Linked DNA regions of Homo sapiens. The protein of the gene in region 2 purifies or fractionates together with the protein of the main gene of each other region. This does not show direct contact. Each region holds a gene or a part of one and is shown on either strand. Other genes may lie near its edges.

Region 1 (3,500 bases), on a different chromosome or scaffold from region 2:
ATCATTCAAAATGGGAACCAAAATTTCTTTGTAGTGAGAAAGTTGATTTTCCATAAGGGGAAAAAAAAGGAACTGATTTTGGAGAACATGAATTTCTTTGATAAAGTTGTATAATGTAATAGCACAATAAGACATATTTCATATTTGATTTTTTCAAAAATTTTATTTCTGAGAGCAATTTTAGGTTCACAGCAAAATTGAATGGAAAGTATAGAGTTCCTGTATACCCTCTGTCTCTACACATGCATACATTTGATTTTTCATGATGATGTCACACATATACTTTTTTTTCAAAAATATTTGAGGCCCTTACTGTTTTCCAGAGATCTCTCAGTAATTTCTTGAAAACAGCTTGTCGTTTTCTTTTCACTAGTTAATTGGCTATTTCTTCCTGAACATCACTGGCCAATGAGCATATGTGTGTTTCTGATTTGAAGTTTTCTAATATTTAAACTCTTTTCATTACATATTTTTTATTATGAAAAATATCAAATATTCAAAAGACAATATAATGAACCTCATCACCTATCTTCACTTAATTAACTCATGGCCAGTTATGTTCTTTTCATCATCCCCTTTCCCCATTGTTTTTGAAGTATATTATTTATTCATGAATGTTTCCAGTATATATCTTCAAAGGAAAAGGAATTTTTTAAAAAAAGCAATACCAATACTATTATAAAACCTAAAAAAATTAACATCTATTATCACTTTGATCAATCTCATAAGGTTCTGCTTCTTTGCCAAATTTGTGATTTTACTTCTGAGTTTCCATTTCATTTGCATTTTTTTGCCTAAGGTTTACTGTAATCAAATCTCATGGACAGAGATCAAGAAAATAGCTCATTAATGAACATTTTCACATTATGACATCTTTCATTTCTGCCTTTTACCTTTGAAGACTTAGACTCAATCCTGGGGTAACAAGTATTCTCTTAAGTTACCTTCATTTAAAAAATGAAGACACAAGAGGCTCATAGGTTAGTGTACAGTCATGGGTTAATACAGTGTAGTAGAGGCAGACATCAATCTTCTTTGAACACAATTTTTTGAGTGCAATGCGTGGGCTGGGCACTGGTTTTGGCGTTTGGGATGTATCAGCGCAAGTTTTCTGCCCTCTGGAAGTTTCAGTGCGCTCTTTCTTTTTTGTGTGTTTTTTTTTGAAGAGATGGTCTTGGTCTCTTACCCAGGCTGGAATCATAGGGAGTGCAATCATACCCCCCTGTTTTAACCTTGAGCTCCTGGCCTCGAGCGATCCTCCCATCTCAGGCTCCTGGTTAGCTTGGACTACAGACATATACCACCACGCCAAGCTAATTTTTAAAGTTTTTCTTGAGACAAAGTCTCACTATGTTGCTCAGGCTGGCCTTGAACTCTTGGGCTCAAGTGATCCTCCACCTTTGCCTCCTGAAAGTGTTGGGAAAGTGTTGGGATTACATGCGTGAGCCACTGCATATGGTATGTGTCCTTTTTTTTTTTTTTTTGACACTGAGTCTCGCTCTGTTACCCAGGCTGGAGTGCAGTGGCGCGATCTCGGCTCACTGCAGCCTCCACTTCCTGGGTTCAAGTGATTTTCCTGTTTCAGCCTCCTGCGTAGCTGGGACTACAGGTGCAGCCACCATGCCTGGCGAATTTTTCTGTTTTTAATAGAGATGGGGTTTCACCTTATTGGCCAGGATGGTCTCGATCTCCAGACCTCATGATCCGCCTGCCTCAGCCTCCCAAAGTGCTGGGATTACAGGCGTGAGCCACCGTGCCCAGCTGTGTGCTTTATTCAGTGCACATTTTTGTTCATTTAGGACAGACTAGGCCAGGTGGTAACTTCATCAAAAACATTGAAGAAAATAGGAATTCTGAATGTATTATTTGAAAAGAAAATCTCATTCTGACCACTGTGTTTTAATGCCTTACTTTGAGGCACTAAGAAAGGCAGTTAGAAAAAAGAAATGTACCGTTTGATGTTCTGAGATCTGAATGTCACTTAAGAATGGTTTTCCCAAGTGTTCTTTCTGCAGTGTTGTAAAATAAAATTGTATTTGAAATACCTGTTGTTAATTGAAGTGGAGGCAAATTTTTACTGTTTTTTTTTTTTTGGCAAGCTTGTAAATAAGCATATAACTATATAACTTCTAAGAACTGTTTTTCTTATGGAACCTGGGAATTAACTTTTTTCTGCTAAATGAGACTTATTTTTAGAGAATCCCTTTCGCCCCTGTAAAAAGTAGAGGTTCCTCTTCAAAGACTTTCCTCCCCATCTAATTAGGAATAAATAGTAACTTCTCTTACAAGCAAAATTTATTCAAAGACCCTTGCAAACATTCTTAAATATCTGCTAGCCATAATGAAGAAATCAATGTACTTTATGTTCTTAGCTCCCACAATTTAGCCTAAATATTTGCCCTGGCATGCTTATACTGGTCCAAGCAAGCATTAGGTCATAGCCTGTTCCTCTTCCTTATTTGAAGGTGTTTTTATCTTTCTCAGCATTCCACAAGTTACTTCCTCCTTCCTTTGTTCTCTGCCTTTGCCTCTTTTAAAAAGTTCTAAGTTGCTAGCCAATCGGGACAAATACAGAATGTGAGGTCCCGTTCTAGCAAGTGGAAACCGGACACAACAGTAGGGTGGACGCTTCGGGTTATAAATGACCCTGTCTCCTTTGTTGGGTGTACTCTCCTGGCAAAACTGCTGGCGAGTGTACCTTTTCTGCAGAAAGTATAAAAATGGCCTTGCTGAGGAAATTAAATTTATGTTGAAGTGCTGTTTCTTTACAGCAATGGGGAATGAGCATTTCAAACATCCCCCTTCCCCCCCTTATTTTTAGACAGTCTTGCTCTGTCGCCCAGGTTGGAGTGCAGTGGCGCTGTCACAGCTCACTGCAAACTCAACCTCCCAGGCTCAAGCGATCTTCCCATCTCAGCCTCTGGAGTAGCTGGGACCACGGGCATGTATCAGCACACCCAGCTAGGTTTTTATTATTTTATTTTTATTTTTGTAGAGACAGGGTCTCACTATGTTGCCACGGCTGGTCGCAAACTCCTGGGCTCAAATCTTCCTGCCTCGCCCTCCCAAAGTGCTGGGATTACAGGCATAAGCCACTGCACCTAGCGCCTCTTCCCTCCTTTTCAAATACAAAAATCCTAATCTATGTTTCTGTCTAACCTTTGTAGAAAATTAGATCAAAATCTCATTCTATATGAACACCAAACTGAGAGCATGGTAGTAAAAACGGTAAGCAAACAACAACAGCAACAGAAAACCTCTACATTCATTGAGACCTCTATTGGAATGTTAAAAGCAGCACATACTATAAATATTCCCATTTGGAACCTTGAGGTTGACTACTTCTGTATTTGGTTTACACTTAACATTTCTTCTCTCTCTTTCTTTGAGACTGAGTCTTGCTCTGTCACCCAGGCTGGAGTGCAATTGTACCATCTTGCCTCACTGCAACCTCTGCCTCCCAGGTTCAAGCGATTCTCCTGCCTCAGCCTCCTGGGTAG
Region 2 (3,500 bases):
TGGAAATACGGACATTAAAAGTGTCGAAGGTTCAGAAATAGAGGTGGGATGCTGGTAAATGCAGCTGAAACTGACCATCTGTGGAAATACGGACATTAAAAGTGTCGAAGGTTCGGAAATAGAAGTGGGATGCTGGTCAATGCAGCTGAAACAGATGGAGCCGAGATGGTTCGACCTAAACGGCAAGAGTGTGAGGGTGTCAGATCAAAGCCAAATGGACCAGTTTTCTCCTTCAGGGGTGTAAGAAGTGGGGTTAGTTGGTATTTATTCTTCATGGAGAGGGCGGAATCCATCCTGAACCCTCGATTTGTTTAAATACTAGTTATGGGTAATCTTACCCATATAGTTTTTTAATAACATTTATTCCCTCTTTTTTTCCTTCAGTAAGGAGTGAATTTTTTTTTTTTTTTTTTTTTTTTTTTTTGAGACGGAGTCTTGCTCTGTCTCCCAGCCCGGAGTGCAGTGGTGCGATCTCGGCTCACTGCAAGCTCCGCCTCCCAGGTTCATGCCATTCTCCTGCCTCAGCCTCCCGAGTAGCTGGAACTACAGGCTCCTGCCACCATTCCTGGCTAATTTTTTGTATTTTTAGTACAGACGGCTAAAAATTTCACCATGTTAGCCAGGATGGTCTCGATCAAGGAGTGAAGTATTTTTCTAATTACTTTTCCCTGGTTTTTATCTCCTAGGTCTTCTGTTCCAAGCTCTTAGTGAATTCTGTATTTTTAGGACTTGCTCTACAAATAGTACAGCTTTATTTTCACCCTCATTTGTTTTCTGCAGCTTCAAGGATTGTCTGTTTATGTCGGTCTAGGATGTTCTAGACAGGTGTTCACATTTGTGACCACCTTACTCACAGGTGCAGTGATCTCACAGAGGCAGACATAGATTCATGCATTTTCTGGAGAGAACATTTTTGAAGAAGGGAAGCTTTGGTATCCTTTTGGCTTCTATGGAGCTTTTGCTATCTTTTTCTTTTCTTTTCTTTCCTTTTTTTTTTTTTTGAGACAAAGCCTCACTCTGTTGCCCAGGCTGGAGTGCAGTGGTGCTACCTGGGCCCACTGCAACCTCCGCCTCCCGGGTTCAAGCGATTCTCCTGTCTAAGCCTCCTGAGTACCTGGGATCACAGGTGCTCGCCACTACACCCAACTAATTTTTGTATTTTTAGTACAGACAGGGTTTCTCCATGTTGGTCAGGCTGGTCTCGAATTCCTGACCTCAGGTGATCTGCCCACCTCGGCCTCCCGAAGTGCTGAGATTACAGGCGTGAGCCACCACACCCGGCAGGATCTTTCCAAATCATGTGTTTTCTACTAAGACTCCTGGAGAAATGAGTTAATTGTTTCATATAAGGATTATACCTTGAGTTTCATTTTCCATACCTTTCAAAAGGAGCATTACTAATAAATTTACAAACATTTTTTAAAAAGGAAAAGGAAAGAAAGCATTCCGGGCGAGAGCCCAGAGGATGTGAGGAGAATGTCCTGACAAAGTGGAGGGAGGCAAAGTGCCTGTCACATCCAGGTAGTGGCGGGAAACGCCATGGGGCTGTGTCCTGCTGTCAGAGAGAAGCTGACTTTGTCAGGTGAACCTGGGTGTTCTGCTGAGGGGATCTCCAGACAGTGGAAGGTGCAGCCTGGCCTGTTTCTGCTGCTTATGGTGAAATGTGAGCAGAAGACCTGGACATTCAGCTGAGGAGATCTCCAGACAGTGGAAGGTACAGCCTGGCCTGTTTCTGCTGCTTATGGTGAAATGTGAGCTGAAGACCTGGATATTCAGCTGAGGAGATCTCCAGACAGTGGAAGGTGCAGCCTGGCCTGTTTCTGCTGCTTATGGTGAAATGTGAGCAGAAGACCTGGACATTCAGCTGAGGAGATCTCCAGACAGTGGAAGGTGCAGCCTGGCCTGTTCCTGCTGCTTATGATAGAATGTGAGCAGGAGGGACTGAGGGGAGCGCTCTTAAACAGAAAGGAACTAGGACTTGATGATTTGGGAAACTCTCATCCTGTCCAGATGGCAAAAGATGCTAAGAATAAGTGATCATTCCCAAAAGTGTAACCTGAAAAGCTGAGTGTGTATCTGTGCAGGAGTGAGGTCAGAAACAGTCTTCGAAAGCAAACCCGAGGCTTCCAGAAAGCGCAGGGGTATCAGCCCTTGGCCGCCTCCGCAGATGCTGAAGTGGACAGGAAACGTGCCAGCGAAGTTCCACGCCACTCACAATCTTCCCAGACATGTCTCGTCAGCCACTGCAAGCATGGAAGCCAGTTCTTGATAGTAAATCTCTTAATATTTATCTCCCACTGGTTTGCTTCTCTAGATCGGCCCAACTGACCAATTTTGGTGCCGGAAGTTGTTGCAGAGGAAAGTCTTACAGATGAGTTGTCTGCACTGGTTCTGGGACTTCTGGAATTGGTTCTCTACATTATTAGATTTAGAGACACTAAGGGCCTAGTTTCCAGTAGTAAAGAGGATACAGGCCGGGCGCAGTGGCTCACACCTGTAATCCCAGCACTTTCAGAGGCCGAGGTGGGCGGATCACCAGGTCAGAAGATCGAGACCATCCTGGCTAACACGGTGAAACCCCGTCTCTACTAAAAATATAAAAAATTAGCCAGGTGTGGTGGCGGGCACCTGTAGTCCCAGCTACTTGGGAGACTGAGGCAGGAGAATGGCGTGAACCCAGGGGGTGGAGATTGCAGTGAGCCGAGATCGTGCCACTGCACTCCAGCCTGGGAGACAAAGTGAGACTCTGTCTCAAAAAAAAAAAAAAAAAAAAAAGGCCGGGCGCGGTGGCTCATACCTGTAATCCCAGCACTTTGGGAGGCCGAGGCAGGCGGATCACGAGGTTAGGAGATCAAGACCACCCTGGCTAACACGGGGAAACCCCATCTCTACTAAAAATACAAAAAAGTAGCCGGGCATGGTGGCGGGCGTCTGTATTCCCAGCTACTCGGGAGGCTGAGGCAGGAGAATGGCATGAACCCGGGAGGCAGAGCTTGCAGTGAGCCGAGATCACGCCACTGCACTCCAGCCTGGGTAACAGAGCGAGACTCCGTCTCAAAAAAAAAAAAAAAAAAAAAAAAAAAAAAAGATACAGTAGTCCATGGTGAGATGTTGCAAAATTATTCAAAATATTGCCATGGGATACCCTTAATTGGGAACCTATAGAAGCACAGATTCTGACATAACAAGTATTTGCTACTTCCAAGCACTGCAGTCAAACTAATGGATATAATGGGATGGGCTGGTTGCTCCTAACTGTGCTGGAGAAGGTGGGAAAGAAAAAGATGAGCTCAGCTCCACACGAAGGACCTGCAAGCTTCTATCTTGGCCCAGAAGAAGCCCTTATTCCCTGTAGCTGCAGAAGTAAAATTGCTGAACACCATGCCTAGAGTTTAATCCTGTGAGCAGCTGAATTACAACAGAAATTAAATTCACAACTGATGTTATTAAACTTTGTCCACTTGGCCAGTCCTATCCATGTAAAATTACATTTCATTGTC

The links. The genes of interacting proteins can lie anywhere in the genome.
Region 1: the proteins of EXD3 (region 2) and PSME4 purify together in Homo sapiens (affinity purification with mass spectrometry; one large-scale study listed by BioGRID and IntAct). This does not show direct contact.

The regions. Positions count from the first base shown.
Region 1 is NC_000002.12:53,960,994-53,964,493, reverse strand, and holds part of PSME4 (proteasome activator complex subunit 4), read left to right. Parts: intron 1-3,500. UniProt on the Homo sapiens protein: Associated component of the proteasome that specifically recognizes acetylated histones and promotes ATP- and ubiquitin-independent degradation of core histones during spermatogenesis and DNA damage response.
Region 2 is NC_000009.12:137,343,163-137,346,662, reverse strand, and holds part of EXD3 (exonuclease mut-7 homolog), read left to right. Parts: intron 1-3,500. UniProt on the Homo sapiens protein: Possesses 3'-5' exoribonuclease activity. Required for 3'-end trimming of AGO1-bound miRNAs.